7 separate regions of the Homo sapiens genome follow, and all the other regions are reported to be linked to region 4. Evidence: microRNA targets listed by miRTarBase, many of them from high-throughput screens and not tested one by one. Region 4 holds a microRNA gene; each other region holds the end of a gene's coding sequence.

What was found. Region 4 holds the annotated microRNA hsa-miR-6873-3p (UUCUCUCUGUCUUUCUCUCUCAG, at 2,885-2,907, opposite strand). A microRNA usually pairs through its seed, bases 2 to 8, with sites in the 3' UTR of a target mRNA and lowers its output. Matches are read on the target gene's strand: a 7mer-m8 pairs with bases 2 to 8, a 7mer-A1 pairs with bases 2 to 7 and ends in A, and an 8mer does both.
Region 1: the mRNA of PALM is a reported target of hsa-miR-6873-3p. Seed matches in the 3' UTR shown: 7mer-m8 at 923-929.
Region 2: the mRNA of FBXL16 is a reported target of hsa-miR-6873-3p. Seed matches in the 3' UTR shown: 7mer-A1 at 2,894-2,900, 7mer-m8 at 2,276-2,282, 8mer at 2,273-2,280, 7mer-m8 at 2,258-2,264, 7mer-m8 at 2,256-2,262, 7mer-m8 at 2,254-2,260 and 5 more.
Region 3: miRTarBase lists KANSL1 as a target of hsa-miR-6873-3p. The part of its 3' UTR that is shown has no 7-base or 8-base seed match.
Region 5: the mRNA of MX2 is a reported target of hsa-miR-6873-3p. Seed matches in the 3' UTR shown: 7mer-m8 at 1,498-1,504, 7mer-m8 at 1,500-1,506, 7mer-m8 at 1,502-1,508, 7mer-m8 at 1,504-1,510, 7mer-m8 at 1,506-1,512 and 8mer at 1,508-1,515.
Region 6: the mRNA of PPP1CB is a reported target of hsa-miR-6873-3p. Seed matches in the 3' UTR shown: 7mer-A1 at 1,819-1,825.
Region 7: the mRNA of HOXB5 is a reported target of hsa-miR-6873-3p. Seed matches in the 3' UTR shown: 8mer at 1,364-1,371.

The regions. Positions count from the first base shown.
Region 1 is chr19:746,122-750,196 of GRCh38, forward strand. It overlaps PALM (paralemmin), which reads left to right. Exons shown (of 9, transcript NM_002579.3): 9 at 164-2,208. The coding sequence ends at 693. It also overlaps a transcript of MISP not described here. Among named protein-coding and RNA genes, the nearest start is that of MISP, 3.0 kb to the right of the region's middle.
Region 2 is chr16:690,651-694,725 of GRCh38, forward strand. FBXL16 (F-box and leucine rich repeat protein 16) reads right to left here. Exons shown (of 6, transcript NM_153350.4): 5 at 3,984-4,047; 6 at 1,850-3,773. The coding sequence ends at 3,625. Among named protein-coding and RNA genes, the nearest start is that of WDR24, 2.3 kb to the left of the region's middle. RefSeq lists an enhancer at 1-176.
Region 3 is chr17:46,028,202-46,032,267 of GRCh38, reverse strand. KANSL1 (KAT8 regulatory NSL complex subunit 1) reads left to right here. Exons shown (of 15, transcript NM_015443.4): 14 at 1-221; 15 at 565-2,352. The coding sequence ends at 792. MAPT (microtubule associated protein tau) reads right to left here. Exons shown (of 13, transcript NM_001377265.1): 13 at 3,934-4,066. Among named protein-coding and RNA genes, the nearest start is that of STH, 31 kb to the right of the region's middle.
Region 4 is chr6:33,284,343-33,288,417 of GRCh38, forward strand. MIR6873 (microRNA 6873) reads right to left here and starts at 2,947; the gene lies at 2,885-2,947. WDR46 (WD repeat domain 46) reads right to left here. Exons shown (of 15, transcript NM_005452.6): 4 at 4,016-4,075; 5 at 3,806-3,893; 6 at 3,623-3,684; 7 at 3,272-3,376; 8 at 3,013-3,163; 9 at 2,749-2,884; 10 at 2,453-2,552. RefSeq lists enhancers at 2,890-3,423, 3,424-3,957.
Region 5 is chr21:41,407,768-41,411,839 of GRCh38, forward strand. MX2 (MX dynamin like GTPase 2) reads left to right here. Exons shown (of 14, transcript NM_002463.2): 14 at 224-1,626. The coding sequence ends at 466. Among named protein-coding and RNA genes, the nearest start is that of MX1, 16 kb to the right of the region's middle.
Region 6 is chr2:28,798,843-28,802,917 of GRCh38, forward strand. PPP1CB (protein phosphatase 1 catalytic subunit beta) reads left to right here. Exons shown (of 8, transcript NM_002709.3): 8 at 357-4,075. The coding sequence ends at 461. Among named protein-coding and RNA genes, the nearest start is that of SPDYA, 10 kb to the right of the region's middle.
Region 7 is chr17:48,588,967-48,592,966 of GRCh38, reverse strand. HOXB5 (homeobox B5) reads left to right here. Exons shown (of 2, transcript NM_002147.4): 2 at 511-1,710. The coding sequence ends at 758. HOXB3 (homeobox B3) reads left to right here and starts at 2,726. Exons shown (of 5, transcript NM_001384749.1): 1 at 2,726-2,842. It overlaps HOXB-AS3 (HOXB cluster antisense RNA 3), which reads right to left and starts at 2,547. Exons shown (of 3, transcript NR_033201.2): 1 at 2,378-2,547.

The DNA of each region.
Region 1 (4,075 bases), not on the chromosome of region 4:
TAATTGTCTGTCAGTTCTGACGGTGTAATCTAGTTCGTGATTTCCTCTTTAGCCTGGAGGAGGATACAAGCCTTGCCAAGGTTTCCCTCCTGCCTGAGCCAGGTCACTCTCTCTGTCCCTCCTGCCTGGAGCTGGGTCATTCTCTCTGTCTCTCCTTGTACAGTGGTCCATGCTGTGGACGGCACCGCCGAGAACGGGATCCACCCCCTGAGCTCCTCCGAGGTGGACGAACTCATCCACAAAGCGGACGAGGTCACGCTGAGCGAGGCAGGGTCCACGGCCGGGGCGGCAGAGACCCGGGGGGCTGTGGAGGGGGCAGCCCGGACCACGCCCTCCCGGCGGGAGATCACCGGTGTGCAGGCACAGCCAGGCGAGGCCACGTCCGGCCCGCCGGGGATCCAGCCCGGCCAGGAGCCCCCGGTCACAATGATCTTCATGGGTTACCAGAACGTGGAGGATGAGGCCGAGACCAAGAAGGTGCTGGGCCTTCAAGATACCATCACGGCGGAGCTGGTGGTCATCGAAGACGCGGCTGAGCCCAAGGAGCCTGCACCACCCAACGGCAGTGCTGCCGAGCCTCCCACGGAGGCCGCCTCCAGGGAAGAGAATCAGGCGGGGCCCGAGGCCACCACCAGCGACCCCCAGGACCTCGACATGAAGAAGCACCGTTGTAAATGCTGCTCCATCATGTGAGCCGGCCCCCGAGACCCCGGCCCCCACCCCACACCACAGACACCCACCAGCCCGGCCCCTCCCGGCGCCTGCCCACCCTCCACCCACAGCCTCACGGGTCCAGGACTTGGCGTGTTGTTACATGTTCCTTCCGAGTTTTCTTTCGCTGGAAAGAGGGACAGGGGCCCCCACCCGTCACCACGCCCCAACACTCCCCCCGAACCAGAGCCGTGCACTTGTGCCTGGTAGGAGAGAGACAGGACAGACCCGCTTTTCCCGAGACAAGGACCCCCCATGTCACGGCAGCTTCACAGACGCGGCTCGCGCCCACCGGGGTCCTGGCGGGTGGGACCCGCAGCCTCCACGCGGCCCAGGCCAGCCTGCCACCCTCTGGGCCTCCTACCTGTGCCTTTCTCTGAGGGGACACCCCGCCAGAGAGGGCCCCGGGAGCCGGGGGTGGGTACTGAGGCCTGCTCAGGCCCTGGAAGTGAGGCTCTATGGGGTTCCCTGGCCAAGGCGCTGGCCCCCCAATCTCAGGCAGTTGGGGTGAGGCCGTGCCTCTTTGGGGGCTAAAGGTCTTGGGTGGAGGACAGGCCCCTCTGCTGTGCCCCTATGCCCTGTGTGGGCCCAACCAGTGGACAATGGAGTCTGGGGGAGGGGGAACCCCGGGGACATGCCCCCACCCGGGAGGGGCCGGTAACCCCTGGGCTATCTTCTAGACGGGGCGAACCAGGGGTCATTGACCTGCCCCCTGCACAGGGCAGGGACCGAGTGAGCCACTCCTTGTCCCGAGCTCCCGCCCCCACTGGGCCCTCCTTCCTCCTGGTGCTAATTTGGGGACCCCAGGGGCCGCCCCCGGCCTCTTCTCCATCCTGCTTGGACCAGGGTCCTGGGTCTTCCCAACCATACCCCGAGATCAGGCCCCACCTGCCAGCTCTACTGGGCTTGGAGCACGTCCGGGCAGTGGAGGGAGGGACACAGCCTGGGACAGGAAGCCTCTTGGGTTGGAGCAGGAGACCCTCATTTGCCACCCAGACCAATGTGAGCCTGCCCCCAGCCCCCTCTCATTGGAAGTGGCAAGGGGCTTCCCTCCTGGGGGCAGCTACACTCGTCCCCAGAGGCACATTCGTGCACATTCTCACAGACACCGTCTCACACGTTGGCTTTGGACAACCAGGCCCCAACTTGGTCCCTGCCCTAGGGACCTCCAGCCTGGTGCCCAGTGCTCAGGCCACCTCCTGGTCCAGTCACCACCTGCAGCCTCGGCAGGGCAGGTACAGGGGCCACCTCGGATGGGAGCCTGGGTCCCTGCCTCCGCTCTGCCCCTGGGTGGCTGGGAGGAGAGGCCCTCTCGGGGGTGACCTGGGCGTCAGCCGTGGAACCCCCTCCTCCTCCCTGGAGTCTGCCTGAGTCCCTCGAGCCGCGAGCCTTCGCTGAAGTGCCCTTGCTATAACCCCCTCTGCTTCTGGTGTGTGACGAGGCCCCCGATGTTCTTGATTTTCCCAGAGAAGCAAATAAACAGCGTGAACAGCCCCAGTTCCTGGAGTTCTTGCCTTTCAACCTGGCGAGGAAGGCGTGGCCAGGCCAGGGGGTGGGGCCTGCCGGCCTTTGAGCCATTAAAGGGAGGCTGAGCAGGGTTGCGGTGTGCTGGCTTCACCTGCCTGCACCCGCTCACCCTGAGCGCCTTGGGGTGGTGGGAGGCGCTGGAATCCCCACTGTGCAGGTAAGGCCTGGCTGTAAGGGGCTGCTGTGGGGGGGCAGGACTGGCTTCCCGGGGGGCCCTCGGGTTCTGCGGCCGCCCCGTCCTGTCCTTTGTTCCTCCCTTTGCTGGGCTCACAGCCCCTGGGTGATGACAGAGGGTCCCCTGGACACCCACAAGCTCTGTAGAGAAGCCGGCCCCTGGGAAATACACAGGAGGCCTGGGGAGGAGGTGTCTGTAGAGACCAGTGTCATGCTCACGGGAAGGTGCTGCCCCGCCAGCCCCACTCTCTCACGCTGTAGTCTTGGAGAAGTCGCTGCCTCCTCTGGGCCTCAGTTTTCCCATCTGTAAAATAAGCCTTCGTGGCCGGGCACGGTGTTTCACACCTGCAATCCTAGTACTTTGGGAGGCCGAGGTGGGCGGATCACAAGGTCAAGAGATCGATACCATCCTGGCCAACATACTGAAACCCTGTCTCTACTAAAAATACAAAAACTTAGCCGGGCGTGGTGGCTCACGCCTGTAATCCTAGCTATTCAGGAGGCTGAGGCAGGAGAATCGCTTGAACCTGGGAGGCGGAGGCTGCAGTGAGCTGAGATCGTGCCACTGCACTCCAACCTGGGCGACAGAGCGAGACTCTGTCTCAAATAAAATAAAATAGGCCTTCGGAGCCCTGAGTGGGAGGCCAGCCTCAGCCTGGGCGTGGGACGTCTCCACAGTGCCCCCAGCTCATGGGCGATCCAGCCTCCACCCTGCTGGGGCCTCAGTTTTCCCCGATGAGGTGGTGAGTGTGGTGGAGAGCACTGCTGAGGGAACTCAGGTTCCAATTCCAGCCTAAACCCCCGCCATTCCTGAGGCGCGATTTTAAGCTTTCCGTACCTCCGTTTCCCTATCTACAAGCCAGGGAGAAAAGGACGTGAAGGGGGTGGCGGGAGGCGGCGGTGGGAGGCGCCGTGAGGCCGCGCACCCTGAGCTTTCACACACCCAGCAGCGTTAGGTGCCACGCTGTCCTTTGGGGGCCCTTTATCCAGATTTGTCCTTAAACACCCCCATCTTGGCCAGGCGCCGTGGCTCGCGCCTGTAATCCCAGCACTTTGGGAGGCTGAGGCGGGGGCATCACCTGAGGTCAGGAGTTCGAGACCAGCCTGGCTAACGTGGCAAAACCCTGTCTCTACTAAAAATACAAAAATAGCTGGGCGTGGTGGCTCATGCCAGTAATCCCAGCTACTAGGGAAGCTGAGGCAGGAGAATTGCTTGAACAGGGGAGGTTGCCGTGAGCCGAGATCGTGCCACTGCACTCCAGCCTGGGTGACAAGAGCGAGACTCCGTCTCAAAAAAAAAACACAAAAAAAGCACCCCCCTCCTGAGCAGCCCTGCTGGATTCGTAGCTGGGGGCCTTTTTACTCGAAGAAGAGACTGAGGTTCAGAGGGGCTCCACAAGCAGCCCCTCTGGCGTAGGTCAGGACAGAGCCCCAGCCTGGGGAACTGAAGTCCCTGCCCCCTCAGCTGTGTTCCCTGCCCTCATAGACGGCGCTAGGCCCAGTGGCCCGACTTCCCCACAGATGCTGGGCTCCCCACAGTCCCAGCAAGGCCTCTGCACCTTGACTAAGAATCCAGGAGGACCATGGGCGCCTGAGGGCCTCTGCGTCCCCATCTCTCGGGGTGGCCTGGGTCTTTTGACGGCCTCGTGCGGTTCTTTTTTTT
Region 2 (4,075 bases), not on the chromosome of region 4:
GTACAGTGGCGCGACCTTGGCTCATTGCAACCTCCACCTCCCAGGTTCAAGCGATTCTCCCGCCTCAGCCTCCCAAGTAGCTGGCACTACAGGCGCCCGCCACCACGCCCGGCTAATTTGGCTAATTTTGTATTTTTGGTAGACACGGGGTTTCACCGTGTTGGCCAGGCTGGTCTTAAAACTACTGAACTCAAGCGATCCTCTGGCGTCAGCCTCCTGAAGTGCTGGGAATGCAGGTGTGAGCCACCGCGCCTGGCCTGTTTTTTAAGTCTCAATTTCAGTATTTTAATGCCATCACCTATTTTAATCCCCAGGTCCATCATGACATCTGGTCATCCCTAGACAAGTTCCGAGTGCCCCCAGTCTTCCCCTCCTTCCTCACTCCTCGACCTCGGGAGCAGCCTCCCAACGGCTTTCCTGGGTCCGTCTTTCCCCTTTGATCAGAAACCCGCACAGAAGTCAGGCACCAGGTCTTCTGCCTGAGGCCTCTGGCAGCTCCCACTATGCTGTGAATGAACCCCAACTCCTGGCCTCCGCCTTCCCCTGCCCACCTCCAGCCATGGCAGCCTCCACCCCCATTCCCAGCCCACCAAGCCCTTTCCTGCCTCAGGGACATTGTACGTGCGTGCGATGCCTCCTCCACAGAGCGGACCTCCCTGACCACTGCCCTAATGGGCTTCTCCATCACTGTGGCCTCCACGGCACTTGTCACCACCCATTCGTTTGTTTACTGGTTGTTGTCGGTCACATACGAGTGTGAATTCCACCAAGGCAGGAATCACATTCTGGCTCAATCCCCACCGAATGCCCAGTGCCTGACACACCTGTTCAACCAGTTGCTCTCGTTCTTTTTTTTAAAAAACTTTTTGAGACGGAGTTTCGCTCTTGTTGCCCAGGCTGGAGTGCAATGGTGCAATCTTGGCTCACCGCAACCTCCGCCTCCTGGGTTCAAGCGATTCTCCTGCCTCAGCTTCCCGAGTAGCTGGGATTACAGGCATGGGCCACCATACTGGGCTAATTTTGTATTTTTAGTAGAGATGGAGTTTTTCCATGTTGGTCAGGCTGGTCTCGAACTCCCAACCTCAGGTGATCCACTCGCCTTGGCCTCCCAAAGTGCTAGGATTACAGGTGTGAGCCACCGCACCCGGTCTCTTTAAAATTTTTTGAGACGGAGTTTTGCTCTTTCGCCCAGGTTGGAGTGAGGTGGCGCAGTCTCGGCTCATAGCAACCTCCACCCCCTAGGTTCAAGCGATTCAGCCTCAGCCTCCCTAGTAGCTGGGATTATAGGCAACCACCACCACACCCTGTTAATTTTTTGTATTTTTAGTAGAGACAGGGTTTCACCATGTTGGCCAGGCTGGTCTTGAACGCCTGACCTCAGGTGATCCACCCGCTTCGGCCTAAGTGCTAGGATTACAGGCGTGAGCCACTGTGCCCAGCCTCAGTTGCCTTTTTCGACCTCTCTGTCTCTCCTGGGTGTGAGCCATTGTCTGCTATTGGTGCATTTTGTAATCTTTTGCGACATCCTTGTCCTTGCCTGTTACTGTGTATAGAACAGGGTTTATTTCTGCCTCTCTGGAAGGGTGGGCTAGAGTCTGGATATGTTGGAGGGAATATTATGTGTAGTGACTTCAGTGTTGTCTCTCCCTTTAAGGAATGGGAGGTCCTCTGCCTTCCATGTAGTCACTGCTGTTTCCATTCTACCATGTCGGCATCCAGCCTCTACCCCTTTGTTGCAAGAAAGAATAAATCTGATAAGAGGTACAGGAGAATCCCGAGACCTGGGATGCGCAGGGCAGATATGCCCACCTACACCGCTGTCTGGGGACCTAAAAACAACTCAGACACATGTTTTTACAACTTTTTTAATATATATTTTTATAAACAGGTCACGTGATAAAATAGCACAAGAAACACTTACCAAATATAAGGTTATATCTTCCGCATATACAGGAGAATGAGGTCGTTATGTACAATAAGAAAATGATTTTAGGGGTTGGTTGGTTTTGTTTTCCTCTCTCCCCTTAATTTTTCCTCCTACAGTCGTTGGAAATATCACAGCTTCAGTTGCATTAATACTTTGGGCAAATGGACAGCTGCCCCTCCCCACTAGGGGTTGTGGGGAGGAGGGGCTGGAGAAACTGGCTCCTGACCACTCAGCCCTGGAGCTTCCTGGGGCTGGCACTCCAGGGACAGGAAAATCTTTGGGCTGTTGATCTGTTTCTGATTCAACAGCATCTCTCTCTCTCTTTCTCTCTCTCTCTCACTCTCTTTCTCTCTCTCACTCTCTGGCTCTCTGGAAACTGGTTACTCTCTTCCAACCAGATAGGGAGTGTCCCAAGATTGGGTGTGGGCGCGGTATCTCCTGGGGCTCAAGGTTGGGATGGGAAGGGGTCCCAGCCCCCTCCTCAGCAACAGCTGAGATTTGCCAGCATCCCCCAGGACTTCCAAATGTCTCGGGCCGACAGAGCACGGTCAGAGCCCATTTGGGCAGACAGAAGTTTGGGAAGCTGGGGAGGGGTGAAGTGGGGGTGGGGGGGCAGGCTAGAAAGGAGCCCTCCCTCCTCGGGGTGTCTAGGGTGTGCTGGCCACTGGAAGATTGGAGTCGCTGACCCAGTGCTGACCCTGACCCTTGGCTGGGTCCACTCTGCAGACTCCACCTGAGGAGACCCACCCAGGGTGAAGCTCGGTGCCCAGGCCTGAACTGAGCCCGGCCGGGTGCAAGGGCTGAGGTGTGAGGTCGGCCCAGGCCTCTTCCCAGGCCTGAGGGTGGCTACAGCTCGAGGCTTGCAAGGTGCCTGCGCCACCCCTGGGTTGAGGCCGACCGGAGTCAGCTGGGATCACGTTAATGACTCCAAGCGATCGCCAGCCCTTCCGCCCTCTCCCTGCCCAATTCTCTCAGCCTGGCCAGGGACCAAGGCCGGGTTTTGGGGCGGACAGGGGACTGCCCCACACAGCGGCAAGGAGGAGGAGAGGCCGCGTGGGTCAGGCTGGATGGGTGAGGAGGTGCGGGTGGGGCCTGGGCTCTCGGCGGCGGGCCATGGCTTTGGCGGTGGCCTGTTTCCCCTGACACCCCTCGGAGGGCTCCAGGTATGGTGCGGTGGAAGATGCAGGAAGCCCGTGGGGCTCTTCTGGGCCCGTGTCCTGGGGGACCCAGCCCCCTCAATCCCACTGGGCCCTGCCCGGGATGGGGGGGACAGTGGGAAGACAGAGCGGGTGTGGCGGGGAAGGCGGTAAGGGCACAGTCTGGAGAGCTCAAAGCCCCCCCAAGGACCGAGCCCCGCCCCCCAAGCGGGAGGGCGAGCGAGTGATGGCGGCGGCTGTGGCTGTGGCGTGGCGGAGGGCGGCGTGCAGTGCGGGCACGAGGGGCATGCACAAAGTCCCCGAGTGTGCGTGCGTGCGTGGGGCGGGCCCACCCGCCGCCCCCCTGCCCGGGGCGGGGCTGGGAGGGCGGAGGGACCGAAGGTCGGGGAGGGGCTTTCCCTCGGCTCGCCCCGCCTCCCGCGCTGGGCCGGGGGCGCGGGGGCTCCCCCGAGCGCAAGGCGGGAAGAGGGGGCTCGGCGGCGCCCCGCGCCCCCGCCCAGGTCATGGCCGGGTTCCCGCGACCGGGGCGGGGGCCTCGCGCTACTCAATGACGAGGCAGCGGGGCAGGTGCTGCGAGAAATACTTGAAGAGCTCGGGGGTGGCCCCGGGGCAGTTGGTCAGCTCCAGCTCCTCCAGCTCCTGCAGCTGCACCAGGCCCGACAGCCCGGTGGTGGTGAGCAGCGGGCAGCCTGCGGCGGGGTCAGAGGGCGGCTCAGTGCGCGCGGCCCAGGGCTCGGGCGGGGACGGCCGGGCCGCGCCTCCCTCCTCCTCCGCCTCGGACCCGGGACTGTGTGTCCGCGCCGGGTGTGAGTTTGCACAAGGACCGGGCAGGTTGGGCGGGTGGACTAAGTGGGGGTGGGTGGTCACTGCCAGCGTCAGAGCAGAAACGGGGGTCTCACCTGCCAGAGACAGGAGGCGCAAACTCCCCAGGGCCAGGAGGTGCTTCAGCCCGAAGTCTTGCACCTGTCGGGAGTGGAGGAGCGACTTAACG
Region 3 (4,066 bases), not on the chromosome of region 4:
CCCAGCTGGGCAGTGCCAACCCCTCCACCCCCCAGCCTGCCTCCCCTGATGTCAGCAGTAGCCACTCTTTGTCAGAATACTCCCATGGTCAGTCCCCTAGGAGCCCCATTAGCCCGGAACTGCACTCAGCACCCCTCACCCCTGTGGCTCGGGACACTCCGCGACACTTAGCCAGTGAGGATACCCGTTGTTCCACACCAGAGCTGGGGCTGGATGAACAGGTAAGGGACGCAGCCTTTGGGTGGGGTTGGCATGGTTGGGGGATGGAACCAGGAAGGGGCAGCATCTGCTGAAGAGGGACCTAGCCATCCCCTCCCCCTTTTGAAGGGACAAAGGGCTGCACTTAAATTGATCTCCTCAACGTTCAGTGGAACTGTATTGATCACTGCTAAATGATCAATACAGTTGTCTGGGTATACCCTAGGAGGGGTGTTCCCAGACTGTCGCAGGAACACTAGATAGACTGGTCCTAGGCTCCAGGCCACAAGGTTTGTGGCAGGGCCTTGGAGCAGGAAGCAGGCTGGCTGGGACTGGGTCCTCAAAGAGCAACTTGTCTGCCTACAGTCTGTCCAGCCCTGGGAGCGGCGGACCTTCCCCCTGGCGCACAGTCCCCAGGCGGAGTGTGAGGACCAGCTGGATGCACAGGAGCGAGCAGCCCGCTGCACTCGACGCACCTCAGGCAGCAAGACTGGCCGGGAGACAGAGGCAGCGCCCACCTCGCCTCCCATTGTCCCCCTCAAGAGTCGGCATCTGGTGGCAGCAGCCACAGCTCAGCGCCCGACTCACAGATGAGCGGGAGACAGCCATCTAAACAGACTCACTAACTATTGGCATTAAAGCTTCAGAAATCTCTGCGTTTGATATTCAAACATCATATGCCGGAAATTTTCACAGTTTTTAGTGAACTTAAGGAATTTAGATCCTACTTTGGTATTTTTTTTTCTTGTTTTAATTTTTGTTTTGTTTTTGTTTCCATGTTTTCTTGTCACACACCTGAGCACTTCCTCCCGTTGGCAAACAGAAGTTCAGGATGAGACCCTGCTGGCCTGGTCCTGGCACATCCTCTGCACTGTTGAATCACTGGACTTACTGATCTTAGATGACCACCCCCTCCCTCACACCTGTGGGCAGGGCAGAACAGCCTGGCGGGCTACAGTTTAGCATGGCCTTCTTGAGCTAGGGTGGAATGGGGCAGGGTGCTCTGGACTCTTACCCCCTCCCCTCCCATCTGTGGCTTGGCTCTGCTGTGGCCCTCCTGGCTGGGTCCCCTTGGTTTTTCGTGCTGGAACATCCCCACCAGAGCCTCTCTGCCATAACTGCCAGCTGCTCTCCCCGAGTGCTCAGCTGGCAGAACACCTTTCCTTTCTCACCCAGAACTTAAGAGACTGATTTTTTGTTTCATCTGCATTTGGTCTTCTCTGTTTTGACTCTTTCACTGCAGTAACCTGGCTGTGGCTGCTCAGGTTCCCCTCCTCATGCCCCTTGGTACCCTTCCCTGTCTGCTCTCCCATGCCATGTACACACCCACAACCCGTCCTTCCACTTGGAATATTTTTACCACCTATCCTGATCTTTGAAGGTAGGGTTAGGACTACTTAACCTCTATTCCCACTCCCCTGCAAACTGGGGGTTGTGGGAAGTGAGCAGCCATCTCCCTGTGTGATTTTTTTTTTTTTTCCCTCTGATTCACTTTGCCATGTTTCCTTCACATCCAGATCCCTGTCGGTGTTAGTTCCACTCTTGGTCTTTCACGCTCCCCTTGCCTGTGGAACATTGTCTGGTCCTAGCTGTGGTTCCCATTGTTCCCCCTTCACCCTTCTCTGTTAACCTTGTGCCTGTCTCCTGTATGATCACATCACCAAAAAGGGGGAGGGGGGAGAAGACTCTTTTTTTTTGGCCATTTTGTAATCGTATAAAAATAGTAGACAACTGCTTAATGGTTGGGGTTTTTTCACAATTTTCAACATTAGTGATTTTTTTTTCTGTTTGCAAGTTAAAGGGTTTGTCATTGTTTCTTTAAAAAAAAATACAATAATGCACCATATCCCTATGCATAAAGTGCTTCTTCTATTTATAAGGTTGAAAATTCTGAATAACCCTTTTAGCATTGAAAAAAAAAACAAAAACAAAAAATGGAAAAAAAAAACCTTGTATTTTGTAAATATTTTCTTTTCCTGCTTTGGAGCTGTGTAATGGCAGCGAAACATGTAGCTGTCTTTGTTCTATAGAAATGCTTTTCTTCAGAGAAGCTGATCTTTGTTAATGTCTTGATTCTGTTCGCAAAGCACAGACTAGTGCTTAAAAAAAAAAAAGAAGGAAAAATTGAAAAAAATAAAAAAAAAAGTTACAGAATGCTGTGTACCAGGCCTTTCTTGACTTACTGAACTGTGTATGCATGGTAGTGTTGGCAGTTTCGGAGCTGGCTCTCTGCCGCCGTTCTTTGGGGTACTCTGACTTGCTCTATACCTTGGAAAATCTCCATTCTGTCTTGTGGGAACGCCGCAGGTTGATCTGATGGCCACCAGAGAGAGAATGGTGGTGGCTTTTCACTGAGGGTAAGGGCTGCCAGGAGGAGAGGGGATCTGCATTGATCATCTCTTTTTTCTTTTTGTTGAGTGAAAGCAGTTGATGCACTTTCTCTCTAGTGAAGTCAGCTGTATGATATTTTCTATCTGTTCTAAGTTGCTCTTTAAAGGAGATTTTGCTTCTCACTGTTAAATTTTTCTGAGGTTTGGTGGGGTCAGTGAGATACATAATTTGCTTAGAGCCTGGATTGGTTCTTGCCTGCTGCCTGAGATTATAACATCTTTCTTCTGAGGAGGTTACACGCTTTTTTTTTTTATTGTTTGAGATGGGATCTTGCTCGATTGTCCAGACTGGAGTGCAGTGGTGCAATCTTGGCTCACTGCAGCCTGGATCTCCTTCCTGGCCTCAAGAGATCCTCCCACCACAGCCTTACCAGTAGCTGGGACTGTAGGCATGTGCCACCATACCCAGCTAGTTTTCGTGGGTTTTTTGTGGAGATAGTGTCTCACTATGTAGCCTAGGCTGGTAGGTGCTTTTTTTTTGTACAAGATGAATAAGTGGGTGGGGCTGGTTCTCCCTCTGCTCTCTTCTTTGCATGGCAGTCAAGCTGAAACAGCCAGTGAGGCTGTCTCTTGTGGCTCTGAAAGCCATGCTCTCTGAGATAGCACTTCTCTTTTGCTGGCCTGTTGCTGCTTTTGTAGCTGCAGTTAAAATCTGTTTTACTTAAACATCTGCCTGCGGTGGCAAACACATCAGGAAGAGCAAAGAAAAGTAGTATTTTGAAACAATCTAAGGATTCAGTATCATGACCTTGGCATAGTTACTAAGGAATAATATGATGGATTACTGTTTTGTTTTTGTTTTCCTTTGTGGCATTGCTATGAAGATGCTATCTGGTTATCCCTATCTTGGTTTAGCAGAAATACTCCTCAATCTATAATAAGGTACCAAAGGAAAGAAGGCAGCTCTGCAAACCTAGCAGGAATCTAAGCCATTCATTAAGCTGATTGGCTTGGTGTTCTGCTCCAGCCCCAGGCCTCTGGACTAAATTTCCAGGGATGAAAGATCCCATATCCTCATCCCCAACCTTCTCAGGTTTGCATACACTGGTGCCGGTCTTGCAAACTGAGTGCTGCATCGTGAGGTCAGCCACAAGGCTTTGTATTGCCCTTTGAATGGGACTAGGATGGTTTGCCAGCATCACAAAGAAGCAACTGCAAATGAGCAAGTCTGAGAACTCTCACCTTCAGGGCCCCAGAGAGAGCTGTTAATCCTGATGTCCAGCTTTTATTAATACTATCATTTCCTGTTCTGAGCTAAATTATCTAAGGGTGCGTGGGAAAGAACTTAAAAAATAGACATTCTATATGACTTTCTTGTCCTTGGAATCCATGAATGGAGACCTTATTTAATCAGAGTAATAACTTTATTTCCAAATTCACTTTTACAGCAACAGTCAGTGTAAATCATTTGTTAAAACACACAATACACTATATAGACATTCACAGACAGAAAGCTAAGCTAAGATGATTTCATGTCC
Region 4 (4,075 bases):
CAGAACCTCAGCGCAGAGCCCTGCCCACAGCAGGTGCCCAGTGAATACCTGATGACAAAAGGAATCAGAGGAAAATACAAATCAGACAGAAAAGCTGTGGAAAATGCAGATACTCCCTCAGGAACAGCAGAAATCCAAAGCAGACACCACCTCCACCCCTCACATCAGCCAGACCTGGAGAGAACGATCATCTTGAATGACAATGATGAACACAGCGCTCCCTATTTTGCTAAGCGCTGTGCTAAACTATATGCCTTAACTCATCTTAATGTCTACAACAGCTTATATGAGGGCTTTAAACCAAGGCTTGGTAAACTACTGCCCATGGGCCAAACCTGGCCCATCATCTAGTTCTGTATAGCCCACAAGCCAAGAATGGTTTTTACATTTTTAAGTGGTTGAAAAAAAATCAAAAGAATATTTTGAGACTGTGAAAACCGTATGAAATTCAAATTCCAATATCCAACAAATAAAGTTTTATTGGAACGGGGCCACACTATTTACTTAATACTGTGGCTGCTTTTGCTCTACAACACACAGCCGAGTGGTCACGACAGCGACTACAGCATCCTGATTTGCACTGCTGCTTTGTACACTACAAGTCACAGTGACACAGTCGTAAGTGCTTCACAGCATTTCAAGCACCTCACATATCACCTATCATTACCTGTGTGAAAAGATGTTTTCAAAGATGAAATACTTGCAATCTCTACAGATCAGCATGAACATGAATATCTACAGTCAAATTTGACCATCTGGAACACTAACTTTGTACATCAATTAGGCAAAATGTTAACCTCAAAAAGAGAAATTCAGTTCTTCCCATTAGTAGATCTGTATTACACAAATATATTTGATTATTATTATTTTTTTTTTCTGAGACCGGGTCTCACTCTGTTGCCCATGCTAGAGTGCAGTGGCATGATCACAGCTCACTGCAGCCTTAACCTCCTGGGCTGAGGTGGGAGGATCACCTCAGCCTCCTGAGTAGCTGGGACTACAGGCATGCACCACCACACCCGGCTAATTTTTCTATCTTCTGTAGAGACAGAGTTTTGCCATGTCATGGGTGACATGGCTTGTTTCGAACTTCTGGGCTCAAGTGATCTGCCCACCTCAGCCTACCAAACTGTTAAGATTACAGGCATGAGCCACTGTGTCCAGTCTCATATTATGTTTTGTTTGTTTGTTTGTTTTTGAGACGGAGTTTTGCTCTTGTTGCCCAGGTTGGAGTGCAATGGCACAGTCTTGGCTCACTGCAACCCCTGCCTCCCAGGTTCAAGCAATTCTCCTGCCTCAGCCTCCCAAGTTGCCGGAATTACAGGCCCCCGCCACGACACCCGGCTAATTTTGTGAATTTTTAGTAGAGACAGAGTTTCGCCATGTTGGCCAGGCTGGTCTCAAACTCCTGACCTCAGGCGATCCACCCGCCTTGGCCTCCAAAGTGCTGGGATTACAGGCGTGAGCCACCGCACCTGGCCATATTACGTTTAATTTTATAACCTAAAAATGTGTGGGCCAGGCGCAGTGGCTCACGCCTGTAATCCCAACACTTTGGGAGGCCGAGGCGGGCAGATCATCTGAGGTCAGGAGTTCAAGACCAGCCTGGCCAACACAGTAAAACCCCGTCTCTACAAAAAAATACAAAATTAGCTGGGCATGATGGCAGGTGCCTGTAATCCCAGCTACTTGGGAGACTGAGGCAGGAGAATCGCTTGAATCTGGGAGGCGGAGGTTGCAGTGAGCCGAGATCACGCCACTGCACTCCAACCTGGGAGACAGAGCAAGACTACGTCTCTCTCAAAAGATTTAAAAAAAAAAAGGTCAGGCGCAGTGGCTCACGCCTATAATCCCAGCACTTTGGGAGGCTGAGGCGGGCAGATCACTTGAGGTCAGGAATTCGAGACCAGCCTGAACAACATGCTGAAACCCTGTCTCTACTAAAAATACAAAAATTAGCCAGGTGTTGTAGCAGGCGCCTGTAGTCCCAGATACTCGAGAGGCCAAGGCAGGAGAATCACTTGAACCTGAGAGGTGGAGGTTGCAGTGAGCTGAGATTGCGCCATTGCACTCCAGCCTGGGTGTCAGAGCGAGACTCCATCTCAAAAAAAAAAGTTGTGATAATTTGTTTTCTCTTGGTATTTAAATGCCTACATGGTACCCTTTGATTTTACCTCTTATCAGCAAATCATAAAATATTTACTATCTGACTCTTTACAGAAAAAGTTTGTGGACCCTTGAAATGGACACTCATATTTCCATTTTCGGGGTCAGGAAACTGTGGCACACAGAGGTTATGAAATATGCCTATACTTGCAAGGCCCATCCGTGGTAACACTGCGATTTAAACCTGGGCATCCTGGCTTTAGACTCTGTGCTCCTAAAGCACACTGCCTTCCACACCTTTCTGCCCACCTATGACTCCTAACACCTCACCCCACCAGTGACTTACGTGCCTGTAGAATCTACTGCCACAGCCCGGACCCCACCACGATGACAGAGAATCTTTGCCAGTGGCTCCTTCATAGCTGGACTCCATAAAGACACAGTACCTGGAAGAGAAGAAGAACCAAAGTTGCTAATACACACCTAAGCCTGAGGTTACTAAACATGGGAAAGATGGGAACTCAAGACCAAGAGATAACAAAAAAGGGAAATAAAAGGGTAACTTTAAGGGACTCATGAAGTACAAATATAGAAGAAAAGCAAGTCAGGATGGTCAGAGTCAAAACTAAGCCAGGTACTGACCATTGCTGTGTCCGAGATGGATGACGGCATTGTAAGGGTTCTGACTCATAACATCGAGCCGCCCAGCTCGAGCATTCAGAGCTGCCACAATCTTCCCCACTGACACATCCAGGTAGGTTAGAAACCCTGTTTCTGACTGAGAGAGAAAGACAGAGAGAATGACCCAGTCCTGATTGCCCTCTGTATTCCCTCTGCTGGGGTCCTAAAGGAGAGGTGGTCATCCCAAGGGCTTCCAACCAGTTCCTGAGCTCCATGGCCACTCACAGCTGTAGCCAGGAGGAAGTGGAAGGGCAGGAACTCAAGCCGTGTTACTCGGTCACAGCGGCGGATACAGTGGAGCTCAATGCCCTGATTGTCATAGATGTGGAGCCAGCGGTTCTGAGCAACAGCAAGCAGTGCCTCAGAATGGAGAAACCTGGGGGAGAGGAAGAGTGGTTCAATTGGGAAATGAGGTCACAGGCTATCATTCAATCAGGAATGGACTATCTCACCCCAACTGACCGCTGACAGTGAGGCCACTGACCGGATGTCCCGCACCGCCTCCATGACGTTGATCTCGCACATAAGCTTCTTTGTTACCCAATCAAGGGCAGCCACATGACCTCGGCGCCCTCCAAAAGCCAGGTGTCTGTTGGAGGTGAGGGGCAGGCAGGGTGTTAAGGCAGGGGACCACCGACTCAGACAACTTGAGGTCTGCCCCACGCCAGCCCCATCTCTCCAGGCGGGCAGACACATGTTGCTGTAGGTGCTTACCCTCACACCCAAGCAAATCGAAGGACCCTCCCCTCATCAGCAACCCAAACATACACTGGGAATGGCTGAAGTGGTTAAGGAAACACATCTTAGTTCAAGAGTCACTAGAATTCAACCTTACCTTCCAGTTCGAGAGTAGTTTAGTCTGTAGGGTCCAAACTGCCGCAGATTCAAGTCAAAGTGCTGGGAAAGAGAAGAGTGAAAAAAAAGAGTGCCCTGCAGTAACGCCTTCTTCTAGCCCCCATTCCTCTATTGTCCTGCACCACCAATCAATCCCTTGGCTCCTTTACCTCCTCAGGCTCACCTTGGCTGCACTTGCAATGTCCACAGCCTCCACAATGTCAGCCTGGCATATCTTTGCTGTGTCTTCCCCATCCTCCCCTTCCAGAAACCTGAAAGCAAGGGTTAGGATGGCAGTAAAGCTTCCCAATATGAAGCAAGTATACCAACATAAAAACGAGAAAAGACAGTCCCAAAAGGCAGGGAATGGGGGTCCAGATTAGGGCTCACTCACCCAGGTTCTTCAGCAAGCAGCAGCTCAGAACGAGCAGCTTTGATACTTGTTTCCTCTTCC
Region 5 (4,072 bases), not on the chromosome of region 4:
GGGGGCTTCTTAGTGCTAGAGGGGATGCCTGGAAGTAAAGAGGGGTCAGCGCAAATAGAACCTTCACGGGGCTTGATGCTGACCACCGGAGTGGAGGTGGGCGAGACCACCAGGGCTTCGCCAGGCAACCATGTGCGCATCCAGGAACTCCATGCCTTCTCTCTGCAACCACAGGCCTTGGGCTGAGACCACTCCAGCAAACCCTTCTTTCTCCCTCTTCCAGGAAACCAGCAAACGTCTCGCCAACCAGATCCCATTTATAATTCAGTATTTTATGCTCCGAGAGAATGGTGACTCCTTGCAGAAAGCCATGATGCAGATACTACAGGAAAAAAATCGCTATTCCTGGCTGCTTCAAGAGCAGAGTGAGACCGCTACCAAGAGAAGAATCCTTAAGGAGAGAATTTACCGGCTCACTCAGGCGCGACACGCACTCTGTCAATTCTCCAGCAAAGAGATCCACTGAAGGGCGGCGATGCCTGTGGTTGTTTTCTTGTGCGTACTCATTCATTCTAAGGGGAGTCGGTGCAGGATGCCGCTTCTGCTTTGGGGCCAAACTCTTCTGTCACTATCAGTGTCCATCTCTACTGTACTCCCTCAGCATCAGAGCATGCATCAGGGGTCCACACAGGCTCAGCTCTCTCCACCACCCAGCTCTTCCCTGACCTTCACGAAGGGATGGCTCTCCAGTCCTTGGGTCCCGTAGCACACAGTTACAGTGTCCTAAGATACTGCTATCATTCTTCGCTAATTTGTATTTGTATTCCCTTCCCCCTACAAGATTATGAGACCCCAGAGGGGGAAGGTCTGGGTCAAATTCTTCTTTTGTATGTCCAGTCTCCTGCACAGCACCTGCAGCATTGTAACTGCTTAATAAATGACATCTCACTGAACGAATGAGTGCTGTGTAAGTGATGGAGATACCTGAGGCTATTGCTCAAGCCCAGGCCTTGGACATTTAGTGACTGTTAGCCGGTCCCTTTCAGATCCAGTGGCCATGCCCCCTGCTTCCCATGGTTCACTGTCATTGTGTTTCCCAGCCTCTCCACTCCCCCGCCAGAAAGGAGCCTGAGTGATTCTCTTTTCTTCTTGTTTCCCTGATTATGATGAGCTTCCATTGTTCTGTTAAGTCTTGAAGAGGAATTTAATAAAGCAAAGAAACTTTTTAAAAACGTAGCCAGGTTCAGTGACTCATACCTGTAATCCCAGTGACTCTGGAGACTGAAGCAGAAGGATCACTTGAGCCCAGGAGTTCAAGACCAGACTGGGCAACACAGGGAGACCCTGTCTCTAAAAAAATTTGTTTGTAAGTAGCCAGACATGGTGGTGCACACCTGTAGTCCCAGCCACTCAGGTGGCTGGAGCAGGAGGATCCCTTGAGCCCAGGATTTTGAGGCTGCAGTGAGCCATGACTGCACCATGTACTACAGCCTGGGTGACAGAGTGAGAGTGAGACTCTGTCTCTGAATACACACACACACACACACACACATACACAGAGAGAGAGAGAGAGAACTTCACACCAGTGATCATCATTATGGGTAATTTTCTTTTCTTCTTCATGTTTTCCTGTATGTTTCAAATGATGAACATATAGATTCCTTAATAAAAAGGCAATAGAATAAATATCATTGCTGATTTGTTTTAAAACCCAAGTTTGAGATGGAAAGAGTGCCTCAAAAACATTCAGCTTTGTTCAGGGGTACAGACGAGAAAGATTACGTGAATTTCTTTCTTCATTTGCTGTAAAAGATGTTGGAAAAGAAAGTTCAAGTCAAAAATCACAGCTTGACCAGCATCCCCAAGAGCTCTCTTGCAGAGGTCTCTTTGATTTGTGTTCAAATGCTAGTGTATTAGTCTGCTATAGCTGCCATAACAAATATCACATGCTGGGTGGCTTAAGCTACAGAAATTTATTTCCTCCCACCTCCAGAGGCTGGAAGTGTCTGAGATCAAAGTGTTGCTAGTTTGGTTTCTCCTGAGGTTTCTCTCCTTGGCTTGCAGACTGCCACCTTCTCACCAGGCCTATGCTTGGCCTCTCTCTTTTCTCTTACAAGGATCCCAGTCCTCTTGAATCAGGTCCCCACCCTTAGGGCTTCATTTAAGCTTGATCACCTCTTTAAAGACCCTACCTCCAAATGCAGTCACATTGGGAGTTAAGGCATCAGCATATGAATTTGAGGGTGGGGGCATAATTTGTTCCATTACAGCAAGTAAGAAAATAGACATGTGCATTCTGAACACAAAACTCGAGCAATGACCAAAAACTTGGAAAAAGGTATCTCTAATTCAAAAGGCAGCAGATCTGGCCTGAAGCAAACCAGATGATCATGGAAAGGCTGACATTGATCGATTGCTTGCAATCCTCCAAACGTGGAATTTGGGAATATGTTCCAGTTATCTATTGTTGTGTAACAATCACCCCAAAACTTAATGGCTTAAAACAGCAGATGTATTCTTTCTCTGGATTCTGTGGGAAGTCTGTGTTGTTCCTCTGTGTGTCTCACCTGGGCTCACCCATGCGTCACAGTCACACAGAAGCTAGACAAGGCTGGGAGGTCCAAGGGAGCCTCACTCTTCAAACTACATTTCCATAAGGAACACTTGGGTTTCATTAGCACTGATTTCCAAAAGTAAGAATGTCAACCTAAAAGGAAGAAGCTGGCTATTTTTTTTTTTTCAGAGGGAAAATGGTGGGTAAGAAGCAGGACTAATGTGCAGTTTCCACTTGGATGGATAGAACAGCATGTGGAGACTCACATTGTGAGCTTTTTCTCCAAGAACCACCACAGGAACATACCAGGAAAACCAAAAGAATTCACAGACCCTTTGAACAAAGTGGCTTGTCACTGCAAACACTGTGAGACAGCCAAAAAACTGTGAGCACCCGAAATGTAAGAGGGGAAAGCATCTCCAAACACACATCCTCACTGGGGAACCCAAAAATCCAGATCAGAGGGGAAGGATTTAACAGTATCTAGAGCTGAAATAAATTTAGAGAGCCGAGTGAAATATAAAAGTAGTAGAAGCAGTGGGAAGAGCCCTGCAGGCACTCCTGGTCCCCAGGGAAACCCAGGGAAGCCATTTCTGACTTTAATCTCACAGGGGTCCCTGGGGAGGGCAGCCAGTGGAAGTGGGGAAGGGCCACAGGGAGGAGACTTCCAGCTGAACTTTGTAATAATGCTGACTGATCGTGAGTTTTCCTGGACAGCATCCAGGGCAGGGAGAAGGGGAAATGGGAAGTGCAGGTAGGAGCACAGAAGCCATGACGGGGAGGGGAGGGGCATGGCCTGAAAGCCCTGCTTGCTTTCTCAATAGGGAGGCTTGTAACCTGCGGCAAGATCTCAGTCCTGTGCACTACAGGCATGGATATAAAATCGGCTCTGTTGGATGTTGGGGGAGCATGGTGGGAGTGAGACTGGCCTTCTTGGCTGCATGGAAGCTGGATGAGACCTGTCACTGCCAGCTTTCCCTCACCTTCCTGGTGTCCTGTATGACACAGCAGAAGCAGACATAATCCCCCTGGGAATGTATCTCCATAAGCCTGAGAAGCACACCCCATCACTCACAGCAGCCATAACAAGCTCTGCCCAAGGAGAATCTGAGCTCAGACATGCCTAACCCTGCCCCACCTGATGGTCTTTCTCTACCTGCCCTGGTATTCAAAGACAAAAGACATAATCTCGTGGGAGCTCTACGGCCCCACCCATCACTTAAGAAACAGAAATACTTACCCAGGCAACCTTAGGGCAAGCTTGTATCCTCCCTATACTGTGGCAGCTATTGCCCTCTTTGTAGCGCCACCTCTTGGCTGGAGGCCAACCCACTCAAGCCATTACAGCAACTCATAACAGAACAACCCTGCCCCTAGAGAAAAAGAAAACAACAGCTAATTCCACTGCCTGTAATATCCTGGCTAGCCAGAGGTCCTGAATCTGTCCACATGACAACTTCACTGCTAGCATAACCAGCATTTGAGAAAACCAGCACACTAAACAAAATTACAAGCAAGGACACTCACAGAGCCCACTTCACTCCCCTGCTACCTCCACCAGGGCAGGTGCTGGTATCT
Region 6 (4,075 bases), not on the chromosome of region 4:
GGTTAGTTACCCTCCTAAGTTACTGTATCAGAATTATGATGACAACATAGATCTTCTGACTCTTAAACCAGTGTTCTTTTCCTCACAACAGAGATACACTAAGTTCAAAAAGTTTTTTACTTAAATCTAAGGATTGGATAGTTGATAGAGTTAGTGTACTTTTGTTATTAAAATATGAGTGGAATGACAAAGTTCAGACATTTGCACACTTTAAGAAATGTTTATGGAACTTTGCTATTCTACATTTTTATTGCATTTTTGCAGTTTATGCCATTTATTGAAAATCACAATTGTAACAATTTTCTTAACTTCTGTACATGAAAAAATAACATTATTTGTTAATAATTTACTTTAAGATATTGAAACCATCTGAAAAGAAAGCTAAATACCAGTATGGTGGACTGAATTCTGGACGTCCTGTCACTCCACCTCGAACAGCTAATCCGCCGAAGAAAAGGTGAAGAAAGGAATTCTGTAAAGAAACCATCAGATTTGTTAAGGACATACTTCATAATATATAAGTGTGCACTGTAAAACCATCCAGCCATTTGACACCCTTTATGATGTCACACCTTTAACTTAAGGAGACGGGTAAAGGATCTTAAATTTTTTTCTAATAGAAAGATGTGCTACACTGTATTGTAATAAGTATACTCTGTTATAGTCAACAAAGTTAAATCCAAATTCAAAATTATCCATTAAAGTTACATCTTCATGTATCACAATTTTTAAAGTTGAAAAGCATCCCAGTTAAACTAGATGTGATAGTTAAACCAGATGAAAGCATGATGATCCATCTGTGTAATGTGGTTTTAGTGTTGCTTGGTTGTTTAATTATTTTGAGCTTGTTTTGTTTTTGTTTGTTTTCACTAGAATAATGGCAAATACTTCTAATTTTTTTCCCTAAACATTTTTAAAAGTGAAATATGGGAAGAGCTTTACAGACATTCACCAACTATTATTTTCCCTTGTTTATCTACTTAGATATCTGTTTAATCTTACTAAGAAAACTTTCGCCTCATTACATTAAAAAGGAATTTTAGAGATTGATTGTTTTAAAAAAAAATACGCACATTGTCCAATCCAGTGATTTTAATCATACAGTTTGACTGGGCAAACTTTACAGCTGATAGTGAATATTTTGCTTTATACAGGAATTGACACTGATTTGGATTTGTGCACTCTAATTTTTAACTTATTGATGCTCTATTGTGCAGTAGCATTTCATTTAAGATAAGGCTCATATAGTATTACCCAACTAGTTGGTAATGTGATTATGTGGTACCTTGGCTTTAGGTTTTCATTCGCACGGAACACCTTTTGGCATGCTTAACTTCCTGGTAACACCTTCACCTGCATTGGTTTTCTTTTTCTTTTTTCTTTCTTTTTTTTTTTTTTTTTTTTTTTGAGTTGTTGTTTGTTTTTAGATCCACAGTACATGAGAATCCTTTTTTGACAAGCCTTGGAAAGCTGACACTGTCTCTTTTTCCTCCCTCTATACGAAGGATGTATTTAAATGAATGCTGGTCAGTGGGACATTTTGTCAACTATGGGTATTGGGTGCTTAACTGTCTAATATTGCCATGTGAATGTTGTATACGATTGTAAGGCTTATGTCACTAAAGATTTTTATTCTGATTTTTTCATAATCAAAGGTCATATGATACTGTATAGACAAGCTTTGTAGTGAAGTATAGTAGCAATAATTTCTGTACCTGATCAAGTTTATTGCAGCCTTTCTTTTCCTATTTCTTTTTTTTAAGGGTTAGTATTAACAAATGGCAATGAGTAGAAAAGTTAACATGAAGATTTTAGAAGGAGAGAACTTACAGGACACAGATTTGTGATTCTTTGACTGTGACACTATTGGATGTGATTCTAAAAGCTTTTATTGAGCATTGTCAAATTTGTAAGCTTCATAGGGATGGACATCATATCTATAATGCCCTTCTATATGTGCTACCATAGATGTGACATTTTTGACCTTAATATCGTCTTTGAAAATGTTAAATTGAGAAACCTGTTAACTTACATTTTATGAATTGGCACATTGTATTACTTACTGCAAGAGATATTTCATTTTCAGCACAGTGCAAAAGTTCTTTAAAATGCATATGTCTTTTTTTCTAATTCCGTTTTGTTTTAAAGCACATTTTAAATGTAGTTTTCTCATTTAGTAAAAGTTGTCTAATTGATATGAAGCCTGACTGATTTTTTTTTTCCTTACAGTGAGACATTTAAGCACACATTTTATTCACATAGATACTATGTCCTTGACATATTGAAATGATTCTTTTCTGAAAGTATTCATGATCTGCATATGATGTATTAGGTTAGGTCACAAAGGTTTTATCTGAGGTGATTTAAATAACTTCCTGATTGGAGTGTGTAAGCTGAGCGATTTCTAATAAAATTTTAGTTGTACACTTTTAGTAGTCATAGTGAAGCAGGTCTAGAAAATAAGCCTTTGGCAGGGAAAAAGGGCAATGTTGATTAATCTCAGTATTAAACCACATTAATCTGTATCCCATTGTCTGGCTTTTGTAAATTCATCCAGGTCAAGACTAAGTATGTTGGTTAATAGGAATCCTTTTTTTTTTTTTTAAAGACTAAATGTGAAAAAATAATCACTACTTAAGCTAATTAATATTGGTCATTAAATTTAAAGGATGGAAATTTATCATGTTTAAAAATTATTCAAGCACTCTTAAAACCACTTAAACAGCCTCCAGTCATAAAAATGTGTTCTTTACAAATATTTGCTTGGCAACACGACTTGAAATAAATAAAACTTTGTTTCTTAGGAGAAAATGATTCTGTAATTCCAGTGTCACTAATTTATATTGTTCTTTCCTCTGATTTTTTTCAGGTTAGTGATTTTTTTGTATACAATTTAATCCAAATGTTATGACATTCAGAAATCATGAAACACAGTAGATATCTGTTATAATGTGGTGTATCACATGGATTATAAAGCAAAGTTATGGTCGATTTCTATTCTTGAAAGAATCAACTACAGTGAATCCTTTGCATTTGAAGCCTTAACATGCATTGCTTTAATTTTGCCCAGGGACAAATTTTAATAATCAGCAAGACTGGTTTGTGCAAAGCGTTGAGTCATCAGGTATTTAGAGCCTAGCCAGCTACCCAGTATCCATGCTGCCATATCCCTTCATTGTAAAAAGTACCTAAACATTCGTGAAATGATTTTTTTTAGCTGAAAAATGCTGGCAAGAAGAATTTTAAAGCTTAAAATAGGTGGTAAATTTGAAGTATGAGTGTGTTCACGAGAAACATAGGCTTTTCAAAAAAATTTTTATTCAAGGCAAAGCAAGGAACATCTTGAGATATGTCTCAAGAATATAAAGATGTATTATTTTAAGCCAAGGAGCTGAAATATATCTCAGTTTATAAATTCAGGTATATTCTTTTTGTCTCCATGGCAACCATAACTTTTGAACCAAAAAAAATTGTTTTTACATCTTTATGCTGAAAATGTGTTTAGATTAGGAATATGGTCGGGCTGAATTTGCTGTTGCTCCCTAACCAAATCCACCTCTTGTTTTCCTTGTGAGTCCATGGCTAAATCAAAGCTGCCCCTGAGAAGAGACTTAATCCAAGCCTGATTGTACTAGTGGCATCACTTAGAAGTAGGCTTTCCCTCTTCCTAGTAGATCTCAATGTTTTATAATTCCTTAAAACAGCTGAAAATTGGGACAACATACTTTACGCAATGAACAGTAGTTAAATAGGAAATAAACTAGTTCCATATAAGTATACACCTAGAGTTTTAATTACCTTTATAATGTTTCTTAAAAGTGAAACTTAGATACAATTGTGATTGGATACTTAGATACTAAGTGAAACTTAGTGTAACAATTTTGATCTGTTAAATTGGATTTTACATGTACATTTGAATGCCAGAATTTCTAAATAAATCCCCTGGTTAGGAAATTTTAAAAGTCAAAGCTTGTTTTCTTCAACCACTACCTTCTACATTGGTTGACTTAGACCGTAAGCTTTTTAAGTTTCTCATTGTAATTTACCTTCTCATGCAGATTGCTGATGTTTTATT
Region 7 (4,000 bases), not on the chromosome of region 4:
AGAGCCAAAAAGGGTCTCTCTGTTAAGAGGGGGGTATTTTTAATAATTTGTTTCCAGCTTCGGCTTAGGTTTTTATTAGCGCAGCTGAACCAGCTTTAGGATAAAGGATGGGGTTCATATAATGTGGGGAAGGGTCCTGCTTACCCCTGAAATTTTGAGACTGTCGCTAGCAAAGAAGGGGTGAACAGTAAAAGGAGCTTTCCGGGGCAAAAGTGCAACCGCTCTCCTCCCTCCCGGGGCGAGCGGCCGCCTGAGCCCAGCCAAGGGTGAGGCACTAGGAGCGAGCAAGAGACAAAGCCGGGCGCACTGGCTGCCTGCAGAAGTGGGGGATGCAGTAGAAAGGGGTGCAGAAATCGAGCTTGAATGTGGGCATCTGGAGTAGAGAGGATTGGAGCTGTGGTGAGCTGGGTGCCGGGACGCCTGGGTCCTGCTCCCCCGCCCCCTCCCACCCAGTGCCCCCTCCCTTAACCGGAATAATGTTGCCTTGCGGCTTTCCTCTATCTGCTCCAGATATGACCGGGCCGGACGGGAAAAGGGCCCGGACCGCGTATACCCGCTACCAGACCCTGGAGCTGGAAAAGGAGTTCCACTTCAACCGCTACCTGACCCGGCGACGGCGCATCGAGATCGCCCACGCACTCTGCCTGTCCGAGCGCCAGATCAAGATCTGGTTCCAGAACCGGCGCATGAAGTGGAAGAAGGACAACAAATTGAAAAGTATGAGCCTGGCTACAGCTGGCAGCGCCTTCCAGCCCTGAGCCCGCCCAGAGGAGCCCAGCGGCCCAAGAGCCCGTGCCACCCCCAGCCCTGGCCCCTCCAATCCTCCCCGCTCTGCCGCCGCCCGCTGGGGACCGGTTCCCACAAGCCTGCCTCGCCTTGTGTTACGATATTTCGTTTGGTCTTAGGTCTTCCTGTGGCTCCCTCTCTCCTGGACTGGTTATCTTGTTATTATTGTTAATAATAATTATTATTATTATTTTCCTTCCATGCTCCCAACTCCCTTCTGCTTGTCCCAAATCCGCCAGTGTTTCTGAATGTTTGTGTCTGTGGTTGCAGTCTTTCCCCCAGGAAAAAAAAAAAAAGAAATTCGCATGTTTAATGTGAACTCTCCCCTCCCCATCTGTGTTCTAACTTATTTATAAAAAGATGATCGCTGTATTTTGAGTTTCAGCTGGAAACTTCTGTAAGGGGCAGCAGTTGAGGTGGGGTAGTGCCGCAGTGGGGTCAAGCTGAGCTGGCTTCGGAGATGGAGTCCCTTTTCATTCTCCTCCTCCTCCCTCCTCACTCCCTAGGCCCAAGTCTCCTAGGGGCTTGGTCCTAGGGTGGGAAGGGGCTAGGGAGGACCAAAGGGATGGTATTGAGAAGAGAGAAAGAAGATAGTGAGATTTAAGTTCCTGCTGCCTGGGTAGGCCCCACAAGGCCTGGTCTGGGAGTATACGGAAACAAAAATGATCCTCAGTGCAAAATGTCTTGTGTATTTCTCTGTGAATCCATGGGTCTGGCTAGAGGGCCCAAAGCTTGTAAATATGGGGATAGTCTGGGTCAGACCCATCTCTCCCTTACCCATCTTGCTTCCAAGACCATTTGTAGTGAGCGAGTGGATGCTGTGCTACGTGTGAAATCTGTCTTTGCGGGGCCTGTCTCAGTGATTCGCTTTTGGTATTTGTTTGTAGCTTTCCTGGAAGTCAAATAAATGTTTCCCCCACTCCATTGCCCTTCCACTTGTCTTTTCTCCGAGGGGTCTGCCTCTCCCATCCCGGGCACACCCTGCACCATTCTCAATAGATCTGGGGTGCAGGGAAGAAAAAGTAGGCTGCTCCCCAACAACTCTTCTCAGCCATGTAAGTCACTGGCTTGGTCAACAGTGCTTGGGCCAGGGAACAGACCTTCATGCCTGGGGGACTCCAAGGCCCAGAAACCCCATGTGGGGCTGGGGCAGAGGAAAGGCTGAGCTAGACTTCATCCTGGTCTTCCACTAGCTGGCCAAGGAAGCCTCTGGAAAACTCTTCTGGGAAAGTAATTTGGGCCTAAGTCCTCAGCAGGAGGCTCCTGGCCTTTTGGGAGTGGTAGAGGCCTGCCCAGCCCCCTGTCTCCTACTCCAAGTCCCAATTCAGCTCTGCCACCAACTAAAGCAAAAAAAAAAAAAAAAAAAATTCAGCTGGATTTCAAAGGATTTCTCTCACCCTCAGCCTTCCCTACCCTTATCAAGGGCTCCTTCTCTCCAAGGGCCCAACTGATCTTCCCTCTTGATTAGGAGTTAGGGTCCTTTCAGAAAGACCCCTGGTTCCCTTTCAGCCTGGCCCAGGGCTAGGGCCCAGTCTACCTCCATCCAAGTCAGCCTCCACCCTGAGCACAAGAGTCAAGTCTGGACACTTACCCGGTCAATCCCTTCCAGCTTGGCCCAACTTCTTACTGGACTTGGAGGGAGGGGGAGCTGGTGAGGAGGAAGCCGAGGGTCGTGGAGGCTCTACTTGGCCCTCCTTTCCCTTCACCCCTTGACTTTGTCTCCCTTTGTCGATAGCAAACTATCCCAAAAGTCGCTATGACATTTAGATGTCAAATGGATAGGGGTTTTATCTCGAAGTTAGATCGTAAAAATCGCCGAGAAGTCAGACAGATACCCCTCACTGGCTCGAGAAAGTCACGTGAGGTCCATAAAGTTAGTTTTATGGTTTTGGGGAGTTGACACCGCGCAGTATATTTCACATTCTCCAGAATGTTAAGTGACACTTTAACTGCTCGCTGTGGTGGGGAAGGGGGCAGAGGTAGGTGAGCACTCTCCCAGCCTGGAGCAGCCGGACCAGCCCAGAAGGCAGCGGCGGCCCAGGCCAGCATTCCCGCAGTAAGTCGCTTTCAGCTTTCGCTTTTACCCCTTGCAATTCTGGGGCCTGGGACTGGGGGAAGAAAACTTGTTTCCACCTGGGGCTGTGGGGTGATGTAGGGGAAATTTAGCCTGTTTTATGCACCCAGTTCTAAGGGACTGGGTGCCTGAAATGAGTGCTCTCAGTTTCTTAAGGCCTCATCGGTCGGGGGTGCCTGATTTTTACCAACAGGAGTGTCTGACTTTGTGGGGAAAAGGGTTTGTGTGGGGGATCCATGCTCCCTCAGTGCCAGCGGAAATTTAGGGACCAGGAAGGAGGGGTGTATATTGCTGAAAGAAGGGGCCATTGGTGGGGGCCACTTCACTGCTGGATATCTTCAGACAACTATCCCCCCATCCTCCGGAAAGAAACTTTATGACATTCATTTGTCGGAGGTGTGTGGGGGTGCACCGCTGGGCACTTTTATCTGGATACATCTGAGCTGAGAAAAAGCACCGGGTAGGCGGCTGCTGTGGGCTACCTTGCCCTGGGGTGATCTCTGGCTTTCCGATCTTTGAAGCCCATAAAAAGAGGTCCCTCCGGTTATCTTTGGCTTCATCAGGCTTCTCTGGGATGGGGAGCACAGCGCTGCTTTTGCCTCCACCTTCAGCCTGTTGGTCTCAAGCTAATCTTTCTCCTTGGCTCGAAGTAGGATCCTGAAGTCAGACTAGGGAGCAGACAGAGAGGGCAATTCCCCCAATTCAAAACCTAATTCCTGAACCAGGAGTGGGGGAAGGGAAGAGCTTCTTCTCTTGCCTAGAGGTGTTAGGTGTTTAAGTAGAACTCTGGCAAGCCCTCCTCAAATAAAATCAGCTCAAGAATACAAATCCCTCAACTGTCGGGAGGAAATAGATTCAGGAGCTGGAAGAGAAAATAGGAAAGGTGCTCTTTTTTCCTCTCTTTTTCCCTCTTCTTTTCTGGGCACACCCTCAAAGTCCCCTTTGTTTTGTAGAACCATAAACCAGAGAGACTTCAGGATTTGATCCCCAGGGGTTCTGTTATTTTCTAGGGAAAAGTCACCCTTCTAAAAGTCAGAGGCTTCTTCCCCACCAAATTGACCCCCCTCCAATTTAACACCCGTGGGGCTAACTACCCTGTCACTCCTACTTTCACCAGCCTGCCATCCCTTGATTCAGCTC